2 linked regions of the Homo sapiens genome follow. The protein of the gene in region 1 interacts with the protein of each later gene in a pairwise test. Each region holds a gene or a part of one and is shown on either strand. Other genes may lie near its edges.

The links.
Region 2: the proteins of ZNRF1 (region 1) and UBXN7 interact in binary tests that used the Homo sapiens proteins (3 or more experiments, as listed by UniProt).

What each region holds. Positions count from the first base shown.
Region 1 is NC_000016.10:75,093,018-75,100,289, reverse strand, and holds part of ZNRF1 (E3 ubiquitin-protein ligase ZNRF1), read right to left. Parts: intron 6,719-7,272; coding exon 6,623-6,718; intron 1-6,622. UniProt on the Homo sapiens protein: E3 ubiquitin-protein ligase that plays a role in different processes including cell differentiation, receptor recycling or regulation of inflammation. Mediates the ubiquitination of AKT1 and GLUL, thereby playing a role in neuron cells differentiation.
Region 2 is NC_000003.12:196,366,210-196,373,481, forward strand, and holds part of UBXN7 (UBX domain-containing protein 7), read right to left. Parts: intron 5,834-7,272; coding exon 5,687-5,833; intron 3,303-5,686; coding exon 3,212-3,302; intron 1,947-3,211; coding exon 1,819-1,946; intron 1-1,818. UniProt on the Homo sapiens protein: Ubiquitin-binding adapter that links a subset of NEDD8-associated cullin ring ligases (CRLs) to the segregase VCP/p97, to regulate turnover of their ubiquitination substrates.

The sequences.
Region 1 (7,272 bases):
TCACCACTCCACAAGGCGGTTTTATGCACAGTGCAGTGTTGTGCCTTTACCAGCTGGCCTGAGTCTGCTGCACTGGTGGGAAGAACTAAAATGTGCAGGCACCCCAACCAGGCTGGCACACGGCAGGGAGCACATTTCACTGGGACCAAGAGCCACTGGCTGCAAAAGGCCACCTGGAGGTTCCCGGCAATAGGAAGGAGTCAGGGTCTTTGACTCAGACAGCATGGGGAAGCCAGCAGTGCCCACACAGAGCCCAGTGCCCAGGGAGCAGCATTCTTCCACAGCAGGAGGCAGGAGGCACACAAACCCAGCAAGAGGTTGCAGTGGGCTGAGTACAACTTCCTGTCCCCACCCCTGGGGCTGTGGGAGTTAGTGGCCTCCGGATGTCCCTGAGAGCCTAGCAGGGAAGTGGAAATGGCTGAAGCTGATGCTTGCCTATCAACTGGTTCCTACAAGACTTCCAGAAGCATCTGACACGAACCTGCTGCCTGCCGTCAGAGAAAAGCCATGGCGGGGGCCTCGCAGCACAAAACCCAGGCGCCTGGCCCACACAAACTGAGACTCTGCTGCAGATGGAGTCAAATGTCCCCTGGTATCTCCAGGCCCCTAGAGAAGAGGTTCAACAAATGCTGCCGGATAAGAACAAAGCCAAACTTTCTGCCATCTGGGTTCTGCCCTTTTCTTACTACCTCTGAAGCACCTCCCAAGTTTCCTGACGCCACTGTACAAAGCCAGCCAATGTCACTGCCCAAGGGAGAGCTTGGAAGTGTGTTTGGCCTGGCTGGGGATGGTGTCAGTGCCTGTCCCTCTAACCAGACCAGGGAACCAAACCAGAATGGCGAGCACGGCCCTGGAGCTGAAACAGGAGGGAGGGATGATGCCTGTGATGGGCTGGGGGTGGGAGGCGGTGGCATCTTCTGCTCCCTCCCTGGGATCCAGGCACGGTGCTTCTGACAGCTGCTATTTGTCAAAGCAAAGATATCTGGGAGGAGGAGCAAAAGAGCCTTAATTCTCTAAGCCAGCTATATGCAGGTAACTCCTCAGACACACACACCATGACTCCTAAAGCCCCTGTGGGGATCTTCGGATAAGCTCATGCAGCTGCTAAGTGGTGATGACTCCCAAGCCCAAGTTTCTGCCACCCAGCGACCTGGCCCCTTTTCCTTAAAAGACCAGGCCATAAGGGTGTCTTCCCTTGGGGCTGGAAAACACCACCCGTCTCACAGGCACTTTGCATCTCCCCCTTTCTGTGAAGTGTGTGCAGAGGACCCAAGGTGGATGGAGGAACCTGGTCACTGAGTGAACAGACCAGACAGGAGAGACACACACCTGCCCTCCACCATGCCAGGCTCGAGTATTCTGCAGAGTTCTGGCAACACATCCTCAAGAGACCCTGGAACTGCTAGAAGTATGGAGGGGTGGGGAGGCTCACACAGCTGCAGACACAGATCTGCACCTGGCTGGGAGGGAAAGCCCGTGCAGCTCCGAGGCAGCAGCTGAGCACAGGAACATGCCTCTCCATCTCCACTTGTGCCTGGTGGCCATGAAGGGCCCAGAGAGAAGGAAGGTGGGAGTCAGAGGGGAAACCCCTAGCAAATGACGCACAGGCTCAGGTTCCACCCCCTGACCTCATTTCCAGCCTAGGTGCGGTGGAGTGCCTGGTCCTGCTGCCTATTCAGCATGCAGAGCTGCTGGCCCAGTCTGCCAGGGACAGGACAGGGCAGTGCCACCCATGCCAGGCCTTGTCAGCTCCCCTTTTGGGAAATCTGGGGGGCTGTGCTCTTCAGGCAACAGGGTGACCTTGAGCAGAGAGTGTAGCCTACCAGCAGCGGCCCATCCAACTGCCCAGCCCTTTGAAGTGCAATGCAATTGTTTTGGTGAGCTGGGCCACCCGCAATGAGGATAGTGGGGGCAGCCAACTAAAGCTCAGGCCTGGAGCGCTTCATACTTTCCTACTGAGGCCACTACAGCTCCCTCCCACAGTCCTCTTTCCTGTAGCCACCTGTTCCTGGTTTCCCCACTTGTGTTAGGGCCTTGCAGGCCTCCCCTAGTCGCTTTCGCTCCTCATACACCCAGCAGCGGCCAGTCTGGCAGTCAGTGCAGCCGGTCAGCAACAGCTGGACACCCTGGGTGAGCAGTCACCTGCCCCTCCTCGCCCTCCTGTAGGAGGAGTAACAGGACAGACACCTCCGCAGTCTGACTCCAGCCTGTCCAGCCTGACTCCAGCCCATCCAGCATCTAACAATGGCTCTGGGCAATGCCCCAAGCAAGGCTGGGCAAACTCCTCGGCCAGCACCCGGTTTCCCCAGGCAGGGAAAGGGTAGGGTGCTTTCATTCTGACCACAGGGTCTCTGAGAGGAGGAGACATGGGACAAAGAATTGCCTGCAGGCACAGGGCAGGCTATAGCAGGAGCCATTTCTGCTTTTCCAGGAAGCCAGGTCCTCTCACATTTTTATTTTATATTTTATTTTTTGAGACAGGGTCAAGCTCTGTTGCCTAGGCTGGAGTGCAGTGGCGTGATCAAGCTCACTGCTGCCTCAATCTCCTGGGCTCAAGTGATCCTCTCACCTCAGCCTCCTGAGAAGTTGGAACTACAGGCGCTTGCCACCATGTCAGACAAATTTTTTGTTTTTAGTAAATGGGGTCTCACTATGTTGCCCAGGCTGGTTTCAAATTCCTGAGCTCAAGCAATCTCGGTTCCCCAAAGTGTTGGGATTACAGACGTGAGCCACTGCATCCGGCCTCCCTTGCCTTTAAAAGACAGCTTGTGTGACATTTAGCATCTCAAGAGCCTTAAAGATGGGGGCAATGGCCTTTGGCAGAGGGGAGGAAGAGGGCATCATGACATAAGAAGCTGAGCATGGGCTTCTGCTCCCCCAGAACACAGCTGAGGGGAGCTCTCCTTGGTGCTGCTGGCAAATGAACCTGCCGCCCCCCAGATTCTCCCTGGGCTGAGGACCCCTAAGCTTCCAGTCAAAAGCGGGTCATCTCCACGACTCCACAGGATTACAATGCTCTTCCGTTCAGAGCATCACCAATCAGACCCCCACCTCCACGCTTGTTCTGCTAGCCCAGAGACTCGAGGGTCAAAATTTGAATGCGTATTCTTTAGGGCAAGGTCCCTCAGTCTCAGAGTCACAAACAGAGATGTTAGAAAGGGAGAGAAATTAAAAGGCCCATTCGGGTTGATCCATCTTACCCACAAAAACAAACCAACGAACCCCCTCCCTCTTATACAGTATCCTCACCTTCCAGGAAGGCGCTTAGGAGGACAGGGGGTTTAACATTCGGTGCTCTGGAGTCAACCGCCCTTCCCTGCCCCTCCAGCAGGGGCTCAGCACATTCCCAAACTTCCCCAGCCAGGTGCCTGTCCTCGGAGCACCAGGCACTAGCTGAACCAGTTAAACTAGTCTCGCCTTTCCTAAGTTGTGTTTTTTCTAAGCTAGCAGGCAGCTACTGGAGGCCTTCCAACCCACCACTCAGGCCAACCCTCATAATAAGAAAAATACTACTTTCTATCTGCCTCATTTAGGAGGTTTCTACTTTTTTCCTTTAGTGGTTAACTAAATTTCATCTTATATAACCATCATAAATTTTCTAAAAATTTCCGCAATTGGTGCCAACAACCACAGAAAGTGTGTGTGTAAATGGGAAGTCTTCAGGGGAGTGACCAGGAGTTCTAGTGAATCTTCATAAGAAAACTCTTCACTAAGAAAGCCCCGCCTCGCCCCCTTTCCAGAAAGATTCCAAGAACTCACACCTCTGACTCTTAAGTCTTTTTTTAAATTAGAAAAGGTAACATGCAGCAGGTGAGGTTGGGATGATGACAAATCATGGGGAATACATTGGAGCTCCTGAGCTTTGGCCCACGGTCTGTGCTCTCTCTGAGCTGGAGCAGGCCCTGGGCGTGCCTGGGGATGCCCACTCCACATACACCCCCGGAAGCAAATGCTCTCCTCTTACCTGGAAGGTTTAGGGTCTTCAGAAAAGACAAAGACTGAACATGAGGAGTCCATACCACATGAACAGGGTCCACAGAGGGCCGGACCATTGTTTCTGAACAAAGCACTTCACCACGTTGAGACAAAGTCCACTGGAAGGACTGGAGACAACTGGCCTCTCTTTGCCTCCAGTGGTAAAGGACTGGCTTTTGCAAAAGAGAGCCTTAGGTGTAAAGCCTCTAGTTTACACACACACACACACACACACACACACACACACACACACGTGCACACATACAGAAACACATGCACCCTTGAGGAGGTGGCCTGCCCCTCAATTCCATGACAAGGGAAAAACTAGAACCAGAACCAGAGGAGCAGTGGTCATGCCTCAGGCTGGCTGGCCAATCTCCCCTTCCTCTAAGGGGGGCCCGGCTCCCGGTGTGGTTTCTGTAGTCTTGGGTGAGGCTGCCGGTGGTGGGGTGTAGGGGGGTAAACCAACAGCGCCAGGCACTCAAGTGCTGATACAGAGGGGGACAGGGGGACACATGGTGGCGTCCCAGGCAGTTCTCTGGCAGAGGAGCTGGACAGCCTCACCTTCCCGGTTCTCCACAGGGCAGTGGGGGTAACTCTGCATTTGGGCCATGGGGGCCCAAGAGCACTCTGTCCTCCACGGCTGCTCTTGCAAAGTTCTTCCTGAGAGCCAGGTTTTCTCAGGCTGAGCCCCTCTGAGGCTTCTTTGTATTCTTCCTACAACAAACGCAGTGTCTACAGAGAACGCCCTAGCAACCCACAGGACAAACGGAGGACTTCATGAGGTCTCCACACATGTGGGAAAGAAGTGAATAGGGTTTTTGAGGCCATGGCTAGGGAGGGCTGTGAGACGCAGGGAAGGCTCCTCTCCCTCCCTGGTCCCAAGCGGAGACGGCGAACAGGGACAAAGCTGAGCCTGAGCGTCCTGACAGCATGCATGCGACAGGACTGACGCGAAGCCTGCAGCACATGTGACAACAGACTTAGAGAACTGGCAGCAGTCAGCCCAGGAGAAAGGAGGCGTTGTCCCCTGGGGAGGAAAGGGGCTTCCCAGACCACAGCTATGATGCCCAGGGGAGGGCCGTGCGGGTCCTCCCACCTGAGCATGGCCTAACAAATGCATGGAGCTGAGCCACGTGGGTAATATGCCCACCTGCATCCAGAGTCTTTTGGCTGAACAAGTAATTAAGAGAGAAGTTTTCAGGAGACCTGAGTGGACGCCATTAGTCAGTTACTTCCCAGGAAATGCTCTGAGACCATGATCCCTCCTAGGCTCATGCTTTGTAGGGGAAAGAGCCCTCTGGGAGTGAGGAGGCTGCAGGGCAGAGAAGAGTCTCCCTAGGAAACATTCTCGCTGGGCTGGTTGCGTGATCCAGTCCTCAGATGCTCTCAGAAATCCCAGAACTCTTTTTCCAACCACTACTATGACTTGAATCTGGGAAGGTGGGCCAGTACCAGGGTTGGAGTGCACTCAGATCCACTGCCTGGTCTAGTGGAAGATGCCGTTTTCTGATGAACATGGTTTGGAGACCAGACTAAACACTAAGCATGGAAAATCGAGGGTCAGCAGTGGCGTGGGCTGAGCAGCACTGAGGAGAAGTCTGTGGGCTCTGGAAAACTGCAAAAAGAAACCTATGAAGGTCTCACATCTTTCATGGCAGCTGTAACTTCCCAAGCACTGACCATGTGCCAGGCTCTGTACCAAAGGCCTTTATGTGCCATCTCTTACCCAGTTCTGACAATCCTATGAACCAAGTATTGCTATCCACATTTTACAGAGCAGAAAACTGAGGCTCCGCTAAGCTGAGCAACTTGTATAAGATTGTAGACACAGAGTGGTAGAGGGAGATTTGAACTCCCATCACCTGGACTCCAAAGCCTTATGCACAGCATGCTAGGCAGATGTTGACAGTCATTTTGTTTCCCAGAGGCGTCCTGTTAGGTTAGCTTGGGTGTTTTGAAATCCCCTGCCCTCAGGGTCCTACCCTCTGCGGTATTCACTGTTCGGCTCTGAGGCAGCCTCCAAGGTAGGAGGCAACATGGCCAGGGTGGAGCAGCAAGGTGTCCTATCCGCATTTTCAATCCCCAGAGCGTCTCTATGTCACACATAGTCCCCCGTCAAGCTCTCTGGTGTGGACTCATAGGACTAAATCAGGTGTTCGTCCGAGTTCGAACGTGACAAGGAGACGACCAGCTTCCCAGCACTCTATGCATGCCACCAGCACACAGCCCCCACCTCCCCAAGGAGGGCGGGTGCTTGCTCTGGGCCCCTCTGCTAAGCCGTGGAGGACACCTGGCTGTCTTGGGGCCTTCCACAGTCAAGGGTGAAGGAAAGGCTGCATCTCCCAGCCAAAGTCCTCAGAACTGAGTTGCAGAGAGGCAGGGGCCTAACTGAGCAGCCCGAGAGCCTTCCCAGACCTCGGACCTGACCCCTGGGCCTTCCTTCCTTGTCCCACTCCTCTTCCTCTCTGACCTGAGCAGCAAGGCTCCCAGAACAGTCCACTTCCTCACCACCACTGAGGCACACCTGCCAGAGGGCAGGGTGAAAATACTGCCCAGAACCACCCTCGACTGGAGGCTCCCACAAGGACTGGCCGGCTCCCCCGACGGATGCTCTGGAGGCTGGTGAGGCAGGCCAAGCCCTTACCGTTGTAGGAGAGGCGAGGTTTGCTCAAACACATTATAAAGTGCATTTCCATCTCGTCAGAAGCCACAGACTTGGAGCAAATGGGGCACTTGAAACCTGAAAGAGAGGAGAATGGGATGAAATGTTTTCTCCAGATCCAGTACATCCACAGTACATGTGGACACTCTCGAATGACAGCCATGTGGGCTCAGGGTCAATGTGGAGGATGACCATCAGAACAGACCCTGGACCTGTCCTCCTTCAAGGACTCATTTGAGCATCTGCCTTTTTTTTTTTTTTTTTTGAGACGAAGTCTCACTCTGTCGCCCAGGCTGGAGTGCAGTGGCACGATCTCAGTTCACTGCAACCTCTGCATCCCGGGTTCAAGCGATTCTCCTGCCTCAGCCTTCCAAGTAGCTGGGATTACAGGTGTCTGCCATGACGCCTGGCTAATTTTTGTATTTTTAGTAGAGAGGGGGTTTCACTATGGTGGCCAGGCTAGTCTTGAACTCCTGACATCAGGTGATTCACCCGCCTCGGCCTCCCAAAGTTCTGAGATTACAGGCATGAGCCACCGCGCCCGGTGGCATTTGCCTTTTATTGCAGCCTTTGACTGACTGCCAGCTTTCACTAGGGCTCACCCTGCCTTATGTGCCTCGTTAAGGTTTAAC
Region 2 (7,272 bases), on another chromosome or scaffold:
ATCTTCTAAAACTATTTTTAGGCTGGGCATGGTATGGTGGTTCATGCTTATAATCCCAGCACTTCGGGAGGCCAAGGGAGGAGAATTGCTTGAGCTTAGGAGTTTGAGATCAGGCTGAGTAACATATTGAGACCCTGCCTCCACAAAAAATAAAAAATTAGCCAGGCATGATGGTGCACACCTGTAGTCCTAGCTACTCAGGAGGCTGAGGCAAGAAGATTGACTGAGCCCAGGAGTTCAAGGCTAGCAAGTTTTTTTTTTTTTTAAAGTTCTCTCAAGGCTGCAAAGACTACAGTGAGTTAATATCATGCCACTGCAGTCCAGCCTGGGCAACAGTGTGAGACCACATCTCAAAAAATACAATACAATACAATAAATACAATACAATACAATAAAAATGTTGCTAGGTGTGGTGCTCACACCCAGAATCCCAACATTTTGGGAGGCTGAGGCGGGAGGATTGCTTGAGGCCAGTTTGAGACCAGCCTAGACAACATACGGAGGCCTCCGTCTCTACAAAACTTTAACAGCTTAGCTGGCATGGTGATGCACATCTGTGGTCCCAGCTACTTAGGAGGCTGAGGTGGAAGGATCGCTTGAGCCCAAGAGGTGGAGGCTGTAGCGAGCCATGATCACACCACTGCACTGCAGCCTGAGAAATGGAACAAGATCCTGCCCAAAGAAAAAAACAGGACGGGCGCGTTAGCTCACGCCTGTAATCCCAGCACTTTGGGAGGCCGAGAAGGGCGGATCACTTGAAGTCAGCAGTTTGAAACCAGCCTGCCCAACAAGGCGAAACCCCATCTCTACTAAAACTACAAAAATTAGCCAGATGCAGTGGTGTACGTCTGTAATCCCAGCTACTTGGGAGGCCAAGGCAGGAGAATCGCTTGAACCCAGGAGGCGAAGGTTGCAGTGAGCCAAGATCACACCACTGCCCTCTAGCCCTAGCAACAGAACAAGACTCTGGCTCAAAAAAAGGAAAAAAAAAAAACCAACAAAACAAAACTATTTTTATCCCTACTGCTATCAAAGCCAAACAGCCATGAAAACCAATGTGAGATTGCTGTATCTTTGCAAGTTCAGTCTCTTATTTGCAACCAATCTTGATACCAATTATCAAACATGTCTACCTAGTAATAGTATATTCTAGAAATTAAGTATAGAAGTAAATTCTAGGAGGGCCAGAGAGCCAGGCCCTAAAGCTATATTAACCAATAAAAATGCTCAACTATACCATGACAGTTGTTTCAGCAAAAACAAAAAACACCACTTCCAGCCGGCTGTGGTGGCATGTACCTGTAGTCCTAGCTATTCGGGCAGTTGAGGTGAGAAGGCTGCTTCAGCCCAGGAGTTCTAGGACAGTCTGGGCAAAACAGCAAGATCCCACTCCAAAACAAAAAACAAAACACACAAAAAAACCAACCACTTTCACTGCTATTTAGACCTGGATATCAGAAGCCCTCCCAGAGCTGCCCCTCAGGAAGTAGACACCTTTACCACTAGGCTTGCCAGGTCAGTCCTCCTGCCCAACCTATTCACATTGCTTCCTTCTAAATCCAGATCCTGGGGCATCTGCCTGCACTCTAGCTGCAAGACAGACTGGCAGGAGTATGAGTATCATGATTTCACCAAGAAGATGGAACTCTCATGTGGGAAATTATCAAAATATAAGGAGGATATCTAAGATGCTATAGCCACAGTGATAGTTGTCCACTAGTTAGATTATCTTTACCATCTTAACATCGAACATTTTATATAAGATGCTTATGACCAATTACATTTATTTTCCCATCACCACCTCCTAATTATACTTACTGAACGGGCACATTTTTTGGGGGGACTGCTAGAAAGTCCATCCAGTTGTCCATGTTCACCCAGAAATCCCGTCACTTGGTCCAAGAAAGAAGATACATCTAACTGGTGCCATTCTACTAGCTTCTGACCTAAGGATTAAAAACCAAGATCTATAAATAAATATAATATCTAGAATCCTTCTGAACATTCTCCAGGATCTATAAATATAATACCTAGAATCCTTCTGAACACTCTCATTAAGTATCTCTTTCAGCATATGCATAGATTAAAAACCTGGATCTATAAAGGTAATATCTAGAATCTTTCTGAACATTCTTATTAAGTATCTCTTTCAGCATATGCATAGATTAAAAACCAGGATCTATAAAGGTAATATCTAGAATCTTTCTGAACATTCTCATTATCTCTTTCAGCATATGCATACATTAAAAACCAGGATCTGTAAATATAATATCTAGGATCTTTCTGAACATTCTCATTAAGTATCTCTTTCAGCACATGCATAAAGTGTACTGTAAAGACATATCCTCTCCACCAGCTTATGCTACATAGTGTCTTCATAACCTAGAAGTCACATCAATTATACTCACCTAACAGATTCCCACCCGTAATGATAGGGCAACTATCTTATCTGCTGCTATCACTTACTGCCATTTAGGAAGAAGAGATTCAGACAAAGCAATATCTATATAAAACACCATCAATTAATAAAACCAGCTCCACCCTCTGCTTCTCAGGTGGGATTACAACTAGTATCTGGGCAATCTTAATATTTTAATGATAAAAAAAACTTTTGTCTTGTTTTGTTTTTTTGAGATGGAGTCTCACTCTGTTGCCCAGGCTGGAGTGCAGTGGCGCGATCTCGGCTCACTGCAACCTCCACCTCCCGGGTTCAGGCCATTCTCCTGCCTCAGCCTCCCAAGCAGCTGGGACTACAGGTGCCCGCCACCATGCCCGGCTAATTTTTTTTGTATTTTTAGTAGAGATGGGGTTTCACCGTGTTAGCCAGGATGGTCTGGATCGCCTGACCTCATGATCCGCCCACCTCGGCCTCCCAAAGTGCTGGGATTACAGGCATGAGCCACCACGCCCAGCTGGTAAAAAAACTTTTAAAAAATCCCTTAAAAAAGGTAAGATGAACATATCAGTTATTCTTCAAAAGAACAGAACTGCACAAACATAAAATACTACCATCTCCCAATGTTGCCAGAAAAAGATGTCCTAAATACATACATCAATAGATGTTTAAATAATTATAAAGGGAAAAAAACGAAACCTTCACCTAAATTACTGCAATTCTGAAAACAGATCCAGTCAAATATTAAAGATCAATCATTTAGGTAACTGAAAGACAAGTAATAGGTTAAAAGCTGCGTGCTGATATAAATCTTACCTGTCCGTGGGTCCAATATGGAAACATAGGGGAAATCCCCTAACTTATAAAACTGTATGTATCTCTGACCTTCCTCACTGTCATGATAAACCTGTTAAATCATTGATATAAAAAAAAAAGTCAGCCTCTAAGAAAAGAACCAACTATAACCTTCTTATACACCAACATCAATTAGCTCTCCAAATATACCTCCGGCCTATGTATTAAGATCTCACTCCTACACTAAAAAGAAAATAAATCTGGTTTGAACTCCTTCAACTTCCCACTTCCAGCACTCTCTGGAAATTTACCATAAACATATTGACCCATTCCTCCTCCTTTCCCAGTTCAGATGAGGTATTATTCTTCCTGCTCAAGTTATCTGTCAACTATGTCATTCATAACTCTCAACCATATACATCTTAATAAATCACAATATATTAAGATTATGGGCCAGGCATGGTGGCTCACGCCTGTAATCCCAGCACTTTAGGAGGCCGAGGCGAGTGGATCACAAGGTCAGGAGATTGAGACCATCCTGGCCAACATGGTGAAACCCCGTCTCTACTAAAATACAAAAATTAGCCGGGCCTGGTGACAGGCGCTTGTAGTCCCAGCTACTCGGGAGACTGAAGCAGGGGAATCGCTTGAACCCGGGAGGCAGAGACTGCAGTGAGCTGAGATCGTGCCACTGCACTCCTGCCCAGCGACAATGCAAGACTTGTCTCAAAAAAAAAAAAAAAAAAAAAAGATTATGGCTCCACATGGTGGCTCGCACCTATAACCCTAGCACTTTGTAGGGCAGAGGCAGAGGACAGCTTGAGGCCAGGAGTTTGAGACCAGCCTGGGCATCTCCACGAGAAGTTTTTTTGTTTTTTTTTGTTTGTTTGTTTGTTTTTAAATTAGCCAGGTTTAATGGTGTGCACCTATAGTCCCAGCAACTCAGGAGACTGAGGTGGGAAGATCCCTTGAGCCTATAGGGGTTAGAGCCTGCAGTGAGCTATGACTGCACCACTGTGTTCCGGCCTGGGTGACAGAGCAAGACCCTGTCCATTTATTTAAAAAAAAAAAGAAAAAAGAAAAGAAAAGAAAGAAAGAAAAAAAGATTATAAGCTCAAGAGTCCAGCACAGTGCTAAGCAAAGAGCTGCTCGATCAATATTTGTTGAATAAAATACAAGGAATTTTACCATTAAAGTTACATTAAATTTAGGGGCCTGTAAAATATAAACAGGCAAATTAATAACATTAATAGCATATCTTACAGTAGGGGAAAAAATTAAGCTCCTTCATAAGTTTTTATTTTCTATAACTTTTCACAAAATAAAAAATAAAAAAATTGAGCCGGCACGGTGATTCATGCCTATAATCCCAGCACTTTGGGAAGCCAAGGGAAGCAGATGGCTTGGGCCCAGGAGTTCGAGACGAGCCTGGGCAATATGGCAGGACCCCATCTCTACAAAAAAAAAAAAAAAAAAAAAATTATATGGGCATAGTGGTGCATGTTTGTGGTCCCAACTACTCAAGAAACTGAGGTGGAAGGATCATTTGAGCCCAGGAGGTCAAGGCTGAGCCATGTTCATGCCACTGCATTGCAGCCTGGGTGACAGAGCAAAACCCTGTCTCACAGTGGGGGAAAAATGATACAAGGTCTGTAACCTTATCTCATTAGCTGGGAAGACTAAAGTGACATGTCTAAGAACACAGAGTTAAAAAGTATCAAACTCAAGCTAAAATCTAAGTCTTAGCCAAATGCTTCCAATTACCTCAAGATCTTCTATACCTGCACTGTCTAATACAGCAACCACTACCCACAAGTGGCTACTGAAGCACCTGAAATCTTGCTACTCCAAATGGAGAAGGGGTGTAAGTATAAAATACAAACCATATCTTGAAGACTCAACACCAAATAAATGCAGATCATCTCATTATTTTTGTATTAGTTATATAGATATATTGATTTAACCAAATACATTATTACAGTTAATTTCATCTATTTTGATTAATCTTTTTTAATGTGGCTACTGGAAAAATTTAAATTATGTGTACAGCTTACAATATATTTCTACTGAACAGTACAGTTTGTTTGTTTTGTTTTGTTTGAGATGGAGTCTAGCTCTATTGTTCAGGCTGGAGTGTAATGGTGTGATCTTGGCTCACTGCAGTCTCCGCTACCCGGGTTCAAGTGATTCTCCTGCCTCAGCCTCCCGAGTAGCTGGGATTACAGGTGCCTGCTGCCACACCTGGCTGATTTTTTGTATTTTTAGGAGAGACAGGGTTTCACCATGTTGGCCAGGCTGGTCTCAAACTCCTGACCTCAGGTGATCCGCCGGCCTCAGCCTCCCAAAGTGCTGGGATTATAGGCGTGAGCTACTGCCCCCAGCCGGCTTTACCTTTTTTTAAATGTCTTAATTCATTATAACCCAATTCCTTTCCCTCAACAACCCACACTACAAAAGTAAAATTCTACAAAACTTCTGATTAACTCTCCTTCTCACCTGCCAGAAAATGAAATGTTCCCGGATAATATTCTTCACAGCTTCGTTGCTCCACACATCGCGGTTGAGGCACTGACATGCAAAGTCTTGAACATTTTGAATGTTTATCATCAGCCACTTATTTTGCATCTGGCCACACTCTTTGGCCTGCAAGAGTAAAGTTACACATTTGTTAGAAATAATTTCTACTTAGTGACAGATGTTTCCGTAGTTGTTCAGAGGTTGTTGTCTTTCATTAAAAATACTAAGTTTTTGCCAGATACGACATCTAGAGTTTTCAGCATTTATACATTCTATATATTTACTTCGCATATGCATTTATAGCTATACTGTCCATTTCAAGCACTGCTCAAATTTAAATGAACTCATTTCTCTTTTATCCAGTTATTTGTTATAATAGCTGATTCTCTCTCTCTCTCTCTCTCTCTCTCCTTTCTTTCTTTCTTTCTTTTTTTTTTTTTTTTGAGACAGAGTCTAACTCTATTGCCCAGGCTAGAGTACAGTGGGGCAGTCTCGGCTCACTGCAACCTCCACCTCCTGAGTTCAAGTGATTCTCCCGCCGCAGCCTCCCAAGTAGTTGGGATTAAAGGCGTGCCCCAACACGCCTGGCTGATTTTTGTATTTTTAGTAGAGATGGGGTATCAACATGTTGGCCAGGCTGGTCTCGAACTTCTGACCTCAAATGACCCGTCCACCTTGGCCTCCCAAAGTGCTGGAATTACAGGTGTGACTCATCATGACCGGTAATGGCTGAATTTTTAATGTATGTTTAAACATCTTTACCTGAAAAGGATTCAACAAACTTAAGATCAACAAGTCACGTAATTTTATTCTCTTGCAACCTCCATCAACAATTTTTTTTTTTTTTGAGACGAGCTTTGCTCTTGTTGCCTAAGTCGGAGAACAATGGCACGATCTCGGCTCACTACAACCTCCACCTACTAGGTTCAAGTGATTCTTCTGCCTTAGCCTACCGAGTAGCTGGGATTACAGGTGTGTGCCACCATGCCTGACTAATTTTTTATATATTTTTAGTAAAGAGACGGGGTTTCACCATGTTGGCCAGGCTGGTCTCAAACTCCTGACCTCAGGTGACGCACCCATCTCAGCCTCCCAAAGTGCTGGGATTATAGGCGTGAGCCACCGCGCCCAGCCAATTATACTTCTTTTTAATGAATGCAATTGGTGTGTATATTTTACTTTGTTTTCTTCAACATCATTTCTGGAACATTTTTAAACATCATATTAATCTCAGTTATTAGGCATATATGCTGTTTTGGAGAATCACCCTAAACATTTTAGTAAAAACTGCTGAGAGTTTTTTCTCTTAAGAGTTGTCTTCCTAGGAGTAGATTCCAAAAATTGGGATTACAAGGTCAAAGAATGTTTGAGAATGATCCCCAAACAACTCTACGATTCGTACAACAGATATCGATACATCAATCGTTAGTGCGTACTTTTTGCCTGTCAGTCCCTTGTCAGCATAAAGACCCATGAAATGCTGCTGAGTGGAAAACAATGGCAGAAAAGCAAATAAGCAAATGCTGCCTCAAATCTTTGCCTAGGAAAGAACAGTGACACGAAAC